2 separate regions of the Homo sapiens genome follow, and region 1 is linked to region 2. A link means that fine-mapping ties the variant in region 2 to the expression of a gene that starts in the linked region. Tissue or cell type: whole blood. Region 2 holds a variant in brackets; the other region holds the start of a gene. All regions are shown on one strand. Distances are between the middles of the regions.

Region 1 (5,226 bases), 37 kb before region 2:
AAATTACTAAATCCTCAGCATTCTTCTGATTCTCTCTCAATTTACATCCTGAGCTAAATGCATGAGACAAACTTTACAGTACATAAAAACACTCTACTACCTAAATTATATATAAGTTGAAGATATATTTGTTTCATCTCTACACTATCACAACAATGACAAATATTGCACTTTTCCTCTAAGAAATGCAAAATACCTTTCAAGGGGAATATGTCATAATCAAATATGATTATCCCTATTTTACAGATGGAAAAACTGTTGGTAACAGTATCAATGACCTGCCCAATTTCTCCAACTTCAGATTCACTAACTTAACAGCATCTTTTGGAAAAAATTATTTCCATTTCACAACTCTCATTTCTAATTTTTAAAAGAAGTTCCTTCCACTTTTCTGAATAATGTGTACAAGACTGTCCTCCTTAACAAATACGAAATAGATGAGAATAAATTATTAACATCCTGATTGAAGTAATACAAATTTCAACTGTTTACTGTTATTTATAGCATCTTCTTTGAAAGGCAAAGAAAATAAATATTAAAGTGTATTTCAAATTCTCTACACCAGTTAGTCATATCGCAGGAAAAAAGCTGAAAGTACACCCTCCTGCTCTTCTAAGAGTTGTTTCCATTAACCAGATGTGAGTGTAGCTGGCAATAAAGATAAAAATCCAAACATTTCGGAAAAATGATCTGCTCTGCCTGTTTTATCCCTATACCTATGAAAATTAAACATCCAAAATGACTCCCAAGATTAACTAAAAAATAACTAGAATACAACCTAGCCACTTACCAAAGGACCTGTTGAGAAAACAATCATCTAACTGGAAGACCACCTATAAGTTTCACTTATTCATTTTCTAAGTCCATCTCAAATGTCACTTCTTCTTCTTTTTTTTTTTTTTTTTTTTTTTGAGACAAAGTCTCGCTCTGTTGCCCAGGCTGGAGTGCAATGGCGCGATCTCAGCTCACTGCAACCTCCACCTCCAGAGTTCAAGCGATTCTTCCTGCCTCAGCCTCCCGAGTAGCTGGGATTACAGATGCCCGCCACCACGCCCAGCTAATTTTTGTATTTTTAGTAGAGACGCGGTTTCACCATATTGGCCAGGCTGGTCTTAAACTCCTGACTTCAGGTGATCCACCCGCCTCGGCCTCCCAATGTGTTGGGATTACAGGCGTGAGCCACCACACCTGGCCCTGTCACTTCTTCTATAGAGCTTTCCCTAAAGACTCTAGTCCACTGATGTTTCCTCATTTTGTTTTAGCACACTTTGGACATCATCCTGTGTAACAGATCAGATTTCAATAATCTGTTCATAAGCTTATGTCCCTTACTTTGAGGTTCCCAGAGGGCAGGAAATATATTTTTCATCTTTGAGGCACTAGGAATAGAATATACAACTGCTGTTAAAGTAAGACCAAACACTAGGCCTTAAAGGTTGGTTACTAAAATATTTAATGGAAAAACCAGTGTACTTGCAAGTCTAGATCTTCCACTTGGAAGCACAACAACAGTCTTTCAGTCAGAATCCTCAAAAAGGAGTGAAAGCTTCTTGCACTGCAGAGTATGAACTTAAGTACTGAAACACTAACTGCAGACTTGAGTAAACCTTAAATATCCTTAGATATTTTTTCAGATACAAGGTTTTGCACAGATGTATAAACATGTCATTCAAGATAGCTGACAACCTAAAAAGAAACTGCAAAATGTTATGAAAAATTTAAAGCTTATCTAATGCCCTAAAATAACCTCAAAATTCACAGCTATAGTAAAGCTAACTGTAATAAACACCAGCTTAAAAAAATCAAACTTAATAAATAAGCCTATTTATAGATTGTAAACGTTTGTTGAACGATTATTTGAATTGTTGAAATCATTAAAGGTTTCAAAGAGATCCTCATCCCCCAAATGTTAAGTTTTAAATAAACTTAACGAAATAATTGTGTATGTATACTGTAAAGCCCTACACCATATAACCTAAAAGCAGGTTACTTTATTTACGCCTCTTTTACTAGCAATTAAACTGAAAACCTTGAGTGTGAATGTTGTAAGAGATCAAAGTTTTCAAGACTTGCCCTAGGAAAACACCAGTTTCTCCCACCATTTGCCCCTTTTAAGTGTTTAAAACCATCTCAGAGAAAATAGTGAGACCTCGTATCTTTTTTTGTGTATTAAAATCTTTTACACTTAAAACTCAGAAATCAAGTGCCTCAACCATTACAGCAACTCTTTATTAATGCACTTTGTGTGGCTCTGGGTGTTATACTCCACAAATAAGGAACCAACTTCTAATTGTGAAGCGAGATATCAAAGTCCTAGAAAGAACAAGCTCTCCTAACCAACTAGAAGGTTCCAGGAAAATGCAATTAAACAGGAAGCAATGAAGTTAAAAGCTAATGGAAACTGTTAACTAGGCTGAGTGTTGCTCACATGTAGGGAGTCGGTCACCCGCTTCCTCAGCGTACATGTTACAGGGCTGTGAGCGAACACTCACGCGTGGACCTGCATACATCCAACTCCAAAGCTCTGAGGCGTGAAGCCCAACTCCAAGGGCGCTCCACACGGTCCCTGTTCCAGGAAAACTGAATACAGCTGCTCGTGCCACTTGGCCCGCAAGACGGGAGGCGAGTCTGAGGCCCACTGCGTCCTCCAGAAACTACCCTTGCAAGGGCTGTTTCAGAGCCCCCCACCCACAGCCCAGCAGACCCCAAAAGCTTCTGGGGAAACTCAACCCCACCCGCTGCTACGCCCCCTTCCCTCGCTCCCACCCGAGGATCAGCTCCCCCGGATAGGGACGACTTCCCCTTCCAACAGTGCATCAGAGGGCTCGTCAGGCCTCACCCACCTTGCACTCGTCGCTCTTTTTTTCTTCGTCGCAGAAGTTGACGGGCGCCAGGCCGGGCAGGTAGAAAGCGCCGCTCCGGCGCGGGCCAGGAACCGCCCCCAGCAGGAGCAGCGACAGCAGCAACAGCCGCGGCCACCGAGGTGGAGACAACACCGGCAGCCTCGCGCTCATGATAGTTGTTTCGGGGAAAGGGCAATCAAACCTAGGGGGTCAAGAGGGAAGGAGGGGTGGGGAGTCTCGGAGACGACTACAAGGCCGCCAGAGATAAAGGAAGCCGGCCCCCAGAAGGCTAGTTCCGGTTGCGCTAGGAGACACCCCGGGTCCCGCAACAGAAACCGAAGCGGACCGCAACAGAGCATGCGCACCGCCGTCTGCACATGCTCAGTGAGAACGGTCGCAGGCACCAGGAGGAGTTTCCGGGAGGGAGCGGGGGCGAAATCCACTTTCCGGGTTTTCCGCGCGCCAGCTGAGGTGGTTGCTGGGAGAGGTGGTTGCTGGGAGAGCTGTTCCGGCGCTCACGTTCCAATTCCAAATTACAAATTCCGATCTAGAGCTCCCACGCTTGGGGGCTGTGGAGCGCTCGCCAGCCGCTCCCCGTTTGCTGCTGGGTCTTACGAAGTTCTCATATCCATCATACAGTTTCTTTGTCACACTGTCCGCGGCACGCCAGTCCCTATGACAGAAAGCACCTGCGGTCTGTCTGGAGGCGGAGTTGGTGGCGGAGAGAAAAAGTTCTGGAGACACCTGGTTGGGAGCAGGCTAAGGAAACAAATGGGGAGGAATTAGCCACAAATCCTCAAATAGACAGCTACTCAAAGGCATCTTCACGGACAATTTCCAAGCATTGGATGCAGTGGTGCATTCTTGCATTGGGCAGTGATTGTGTGCACACATCTCTTTAAGGGAGAGTGGAAATGGGGTGAGGAGGAAAATGGGAGTAGGATAGAGTGTAGCGTTGACATTTATTTTCTTTAAAGGAAGACCCGAGCATACCTGAGAGCTCAGTGAAGAAAGTAGTTCTGGCGAATCGGATTAATATGGTATGATCAGCCTTTAGCAAGATTCTATCACTTTTCCCACTGATGATGTGAGACGGTGTCCGCGTGTGTAAGTGCACACACGTGTGTGTGTGTGTGTGTTGCATCTTCTGAGTATTTTTCAAGGAGAAGCTTTTTAGTGATCTGAAAAAGTCAATTCAGTTAGCCACTAGAGTTCAATCAAAAACTTCGGAAGAGTGCATCATCTTAAAGTACATAAGAGAGAATCATGACCTCCAGCTCAGAATTCAAGAATAGGCAGGTTTGTGAAATAGTAAGCTCAGAAAGTTGAGGGCCAGTGAACTCCTATTTCAAGTTCTTGCGGGTGTTTGTACTTTTTTCCCAGGTAAGGTTTATAACTTTCATCAGATTTTCAAAGGGACCTAGGACCCTGCAAATTGATCCATATAGTGGGGTAGCCAAGTTAATCAAGAGAACTGGGAAGTAGAAAAGAACGTTCATCTTAAGGTTGTTGTGAAGATTAAATCAAAAATGGAGGGAAAGTGCTGAGCACATAGCTTGGCCCAAGGAATGGCACTTTTTTTTTTTTTTTTGATAACAAAAACTAATCTGGTAGGGCCTGAGCAGAAAATTGTGCCTAGGTGGCTTCCCTTTCATGTCCTCTCCCTCAAATAAATCAACATATTCGCTGAACTTTGGGATAGGGAAAAATTGTAAAATATTCTGTATTTGGAAGTCATGGAGATTTCCAATATAACAAAAGGAAGCAGACGTTTTCTCCAAATATTAAGAGGAGGAAACAAAAATTAACATTTTTGCTCACTATCTTCTTTTCCTAGCACCACTGAAACTTGACCTTCGGCCGGCGCGGTGGCTCACGCCTGTAATCCCAGCACTTTGGGAGGCCGAGATGGGCGGATCACGAGGTCAGAAGATCGAGACCATCCTGGCTAACACGGTGAAACCCCGTCTCTACTAAAAATACAAAAAAATTAGCCGAGCGTGGTGGCGGGCTCCTGTAGTCCCAGCTACTTGGGAGGCTGAGGCAGGAGAATGGCGTGAACCCGGGAGGCGGAGCTTGCGGTAAGCCGAGATCGCGCCACTGCACTCCAGCCTGGGCGACTGAGCACGACTCCGTCTCAAAAAAAAAAAAAAAAAAACAAAAAAAAAACTTGACCTTCATTATATCTCACTGCCCTCATCCCAAACATTTCCTCTCCCAGTTTTCCAGGAAACGGCATCGCTGCCCATCTCTTTTCAGGCCCCAACCCTGGAGAAGAACCTAAATTTCTCATTTCCTCACTACCTACCTCCAGTCCTTCAGCAGGTCCCGTTGGTTGGGCTGCTAAACTATGGGCTAAATCCTTTCAGTACTTTCCATGCCC
Region 2 (5,226 bases):
CAGGAAAGCCTTGCCTTTCGAATGAAAATATCCAGGATTGGGTGAACATAGCTTGAGTCGCCCTATTTGGGTAATGACTCAGATTAGATATCCAGCTCTCAGTAATGTTAGTGTTTGCTTGGGTTTATGAAATATTTTATTGATCTAGGCATTTTGCTTTTTTTTTTTATTCTCCACCTGTTTGTGGGTAGATTTTTATGACTGGTATCAAATTCCTTATTTTACACGTGGACCTATATTTCATGCTTGATATTTGATAAAGGAAATTGAGCTGTTCTTTCTATTGCTTTAAGAGCAGTAGATCCTGGGGGTGAATGCTGTTGTGTGACACATCAAGACCAGCAAAAGCACAAGAGAAATGAGCTTTGAAAAGAGAGGTAATTACCTAAAATTAGATAAAGCCAAAACTGTTCTGTTAGGTAAATCCTGCTGCTAAATTGCCTTTAGCAAGCTAAGCATGGGATAATATTATGTTCTACCAAAAAAAAAAAAAAAAATCTAAAACCTTAGCCACAGGAAAGTGTGCTGAATATCAAGTGTTTTCAAGCGTTCTCTTATTTTTCTTTATTACTTTCCTGACTTGAAAAAAGACATGGCAAAGTGTAGTGACAATTGATTTAGGGCATGGGAAAGGGTGACCCGATTTTTAAAAATGTTCTCATAAATCAACAAATTAGTCTCCTTGAGATCATGAAGTGATGTTTCTGAGAAATTAGTGGCCTCATTCTGGAACCTAGTGGACAGGCTGTGTTTTCAAAACTAACAGCTTGTTCTAGTTGCCTTGCTTTAGTTGAAGGCTTAGTACCTCTACCAAAAGCTTCAAAGTAACGCAGGCATTGAGCTTCCCCAAGAAAAGGGCAGTAAAACAAACAATGTAGAAGCAAAGAACCAGGTGTCTTGGCAACATTGTAATTATGGCTGCTTGTGACGTTCTACAGGGATTTCTTCTTCAGGACTATGAATTTGGCCCATCAGGAGAACTTTGGCTAGCTAATACCTGCTGGGGAAATGTATGGGATCAGATCTCTGATTTATGAGATCCCTTCCAAGTGGGATCTGATAAATTATTAAAATAATAATTTTGAAATCTGTAACAATTTGAGAAAATACTTATGTCATAATGTTCCATGAAAGAAGCAAGATTTAAAAAATAAACTTTTCCGTGATTACAACTGTGTAATAATTATGGATATGTACAAACAAAGTCTCTAAAACAATAGCTAAAAATGAAAAAGGCCAGGTGTGGTGGCTCACGCCTGTAATCCCAGCACTTTGGGAGGCTGAGGAGGGAAGATAGCTACAGCCTGTGTTCAAGACTAGCCTGTTCCCATCAGCAGTAGACTGGATAAAGAAAATGTGGTGCCTGTACACCATGGAATACTACACAGACATGAAAAAGAATGAGATCATGTCCTTTGCAGAAGCACAGACGGAGCTGGAGGCTATCATCCTATGCGAACTAACATAGGAGCAGAAAACCAAATGCCATATGTTCTCACTTATAAGGGGGAGCTAAAGAGTGAGTAGATACGGACACAAAGAAGGGAAAGACAGACACTCGGGCCTACTTGAGGGTGGAGGGTTGGGGGAGGGTGAGGATCAAAAAACTACCTATTGAGGGCCAGGCGCAGTGGCTCACGCCTGTAATCGCAGCACTTTGGGAGGCAGAGGCAGGCAGATCACCTGAGGTCAGGAGTTCAAGACCAGCTTGGCCAACATGATGAAACCCTGTCTCTACTAAAAATACAAAAATTAGCTGGGCATGGTGGCGCATGCCTGTAATCCCAGCTATTTGGGAGGTTGAGGTAGGAGAATCGCTTGAACCTGGGAGGTGGAGTTTTCAGTGAGCCGAGAATGCGCCACTGCACTCCAGCCTGGGCAACAGAGCAAGATTCCATCTCAAACAAACAAACAAACAAACAAACAAAAAACCAAAAAAAAAAACCAACAAACACACACAAACCCCAAAACCCTACCTATTGGGTACTAGGCTTATTTATTACTTGAGTGACAAAATAATCTGTACACCAAAACCCCATGACATGGAATTTACCTATATAACAAACTTGCACATGGACCCTTGAACCTAAAATAAAAGTTTTTTTAAAAAAAGACTAGCTTGAACAACATATAAAACAATTTAAAATTTTTTTTAAAAGAAAAACATTTAATTTCTGGGGAGATTTTAGAAAACGCTTAGTTGATTTTGCCTTAATTCTGTTGTAGTTGATGCAAAAAGCAAAAGAAAGGCAAGGTGACATTCAAAATATTTTGTATGCTGTATTCTACACTGTGGAGGCTGCTCTAATAAGCAGCTGTAGTAATTACAGAGGGCACCAGATGGTGGCATGTAAACACAGCTTAGAGAGCCAGGTGGGCACTGGGCTTTTCCCACTGGGGTTCCAGAGTGGCCTCTCCCCCTCCAAGGTCTGGGCCCAGTCTGTTTGGGGGAGTGTCAAATGCAGATGGGAGCTGTTGGA[G/A]GCCCAGAATGTTGCTGGAGAGGGGTAGACACCAGGGCAGCCCTTCAGAACGCCCTACCTCAGCCCAGAGCAATGGGTGTGTTGGAGGCACTTGATGTGTTCAGGCATCATCTCCAGGTTTTAACAAGTGGCACAGCTGTAACAACGCCAATGAGCTGATAGGAGCCCTGATTACCAACAGTCTTGAAAGAGAGGGCCTGAGAGAATGCTTGCAAAGTTCTTACTTAGTGTAATCCCAGCACATGGGAAAGACTCCATACACGCTGGCTGTTGTAATAGGATCACAGTCCTGCTTACACTTTTATTATTATCAATAGGCAAAAAGCACACACCCTAGAGATTTTTCGAGGTTCCTTGAGGAGAGGATGGATGTCAGGTGTGGCCATCAGCCCCAGCGCTGAGAAGGGCTTATACAGACAGAATCTTCAGGTGGTATGACGACTTAGCTTCCCTGGCCTTTCTCCCCACTTCTGCCCATCGGTCATTACCTACCTCAGGACCCTCTAGTCATTATCGTGGAGAGGGGGACAAAGGAGGAAAATGCAGGTAGTTGAACCTGAGAGATGGTGCCAAATTGTCTTTTAATAACAGTTTTTTCTTCGAAACAACACAGAAATGCATGTCTGCACACAACAGGGACAGGATCCAGGAATTAGGAAGCCCCAACAAGAGTGCCAGGGGCACCCCAGAAAACCAGACACAAGGCTATGGCTGACCTTCTAACCTTCTCACTTCGTAAAAACAGAAGAGAACAAGTTCCTTCCTCAACTTGATACGTTAGCGTTTCTTGTAAATACATTTCCTGTGTCTAGTTCATCTTACTTTATAAACACAGACATCTGCTTTCAGTTTTGTTAAGAATGTGCTAAGAAATTCAGTTGAAAAACGCAATAAAGGATCCACAGAGGTCTGTCCTCACAGAACGAATCAGTGTTCAAACTAGTTCTGGAGGGAGACATTCAACATAGAGATGCCACAGGGCTACAAGCCAGCATTCCTGCTCGCTGAAGAAAGGCAACACTCGACACCCATGACCATCGATCCCATCTATTGGGGTGGAGGGTGGGGAATGCCTTCCATTACAGACTCAGTGTGACCTGTCTTCCCCGTCCTCCCATGAGGAGTCAGAGCCTTGGGAAGATGCCTGCAGAGTCATCACCACTGCATCCTCATCATGACCTGTATCTGTAGATTTTTCTCCCTTCAAGTACTATAATTTCCCACTGAACTCCGCTCTTTCTATTGGCTGACATACAGTATGTGCTTACTATGTGCTAGACATTGTACTAAGCAGTTTACATGGATTATTTCACTCTATGCTATTAGGGAAATAGTCTTATTGTGTCCATTTTACAGATGGAAAAACTGAGGCTGTCGATGGATGGATGGATGGATGGATGGATAGATAGATAGATGAATGGTGGGTAAAGCTGAGATACAAACCCAGTCTTAACCATTAAAACTGCCTTTATGAATAATAATGTAAGACAAAATAAATTTGAACTTCTTTAATTCAAGTCTACTGATCGATAGTGATAAGTATAAAATAATAATCATATCAAACACTTATAACAATCTTATAAGATAGGAGCCATAATCATAACTGTTTTACAGAAATGCCTAAAGTATTACTGGCCCTTTCAATGAAACCACATGCAGAAGAAGGAGAAACATACACAGACACACAGGCACACAGAACAGAAGCAGTCACATGTGCATTTGGAGCTGGATGCAGAAGTATACTTACAGGCAGAAGCAGATTGCCTTAGGTTGAGCTGTTGTAACAAAATACCATAGACTGGAAGGTGTTAACCAGGTGGATAGATTATCCCTCTATCCATAGATGGCTTAAGGAACAGACATTCATTTCTCATAGTTCTGTAGCCTGGGAAGGTGCCAGCAGATCTGCTTCTTTTGAGAGCTCTTTCCTGGCTTGTAGACAGCCACCTTCCTGCTGCTGTGTGCTCACATGGCCCTTCCTTGGTTTATGTAAATGGGAAGAGAGAAAGCTCTGGTGCCCCCACTTATTATAAGGGCACTAATTTCACCATGTGGCTCCCATCCTTGTGGCCTAATCTAGGCCTAATTACCTCTGAAAAGTTCCACCTCCAAATGTCATCATATTGTGGGGTAGGGCATCAACATATACATTTTGTGGGGGATACAAACATTTAGCCCATAACATAGATCTTATGCGGAAATCACAGAGGGATAGCTACACACAGAAAGTGGATCCTAATCATCCATCCATCAATCCACCCTTCTATCCATTGATTCATATGGTCACTTACTTACCCACACATCTATCCATCCATCCATCCATCCATCCATCCATCCATCCATCCATCCATCCACCCATCCACCCATCCATCCACCCACCCATCCATCCACCCATCCATCCACCCATCCATCCACCCATCCATCCACCCATCCATCCACCCATCCATCCATCCATCCATCCATCCACCCATCCATCCATCCACCCATCCATCCACCCATCCATCCATCCATGCAATTAATGTTTGTTTGTTGTGCATCGCCCTGAAGCCAGCGAGACCACGAACCCACTGGGAGGAACGAACAACTCCAGACGCGCCGCCTTAAGAGCTGTAACACTCACCGCGAAGGTCTGCAGCTTCACTCCTGAAGCCAGCGAGACCACGAACCCACCAGAAGGAAGAAACTCCGAACACATCTGAACATCAGAAGGAACAAACTCTGGACACGCTGCCTTTAAGAACTGTAA

Evidence for each region. PIP is the estimated chance that this variant, and not a neighbour inherited with it, causes the effect.
Region 1: it holds the start of TM9SF2, and the variant in region 2 is fine-mapped to the expression of TM9SF2 in whole blood (TOPMed, PIP above 0.99).

What each region holds. Positions count from the first base shown.
Region 1 is chr13:99,499,395-99,504,620 of GRCh38, reverse strand. TM9SF2 (transmembrane 9 superfamily member 2) reads right to left here and starts at 3,149. Exons shown (of 17, transcript NM_004800.3): 1 at 2,844-3,149. The coding sequence starts at 3,014. LINC00449 (long intergenic non-protein coding RNA 449) reads left to right here and starts at 3,558. Exons shown (of 2, transcript NR_133664.1): 1 at 3,558-4,226; 2 at 4,681-4,898. RefSeq lists enhancers at 2,769-3,357, 3,264-3,443.
Region 2 is chr13:99,462,794-99,468,019 of GRCh38, reverse strand. No RefSeq gene overlaps it. Among named protein-coding and RNA genes, the nearest start is that of LNCARGI, 33 kb to the right of the region's middle. The variant G/A (reference allele first, on the strand shown) is at 2,481.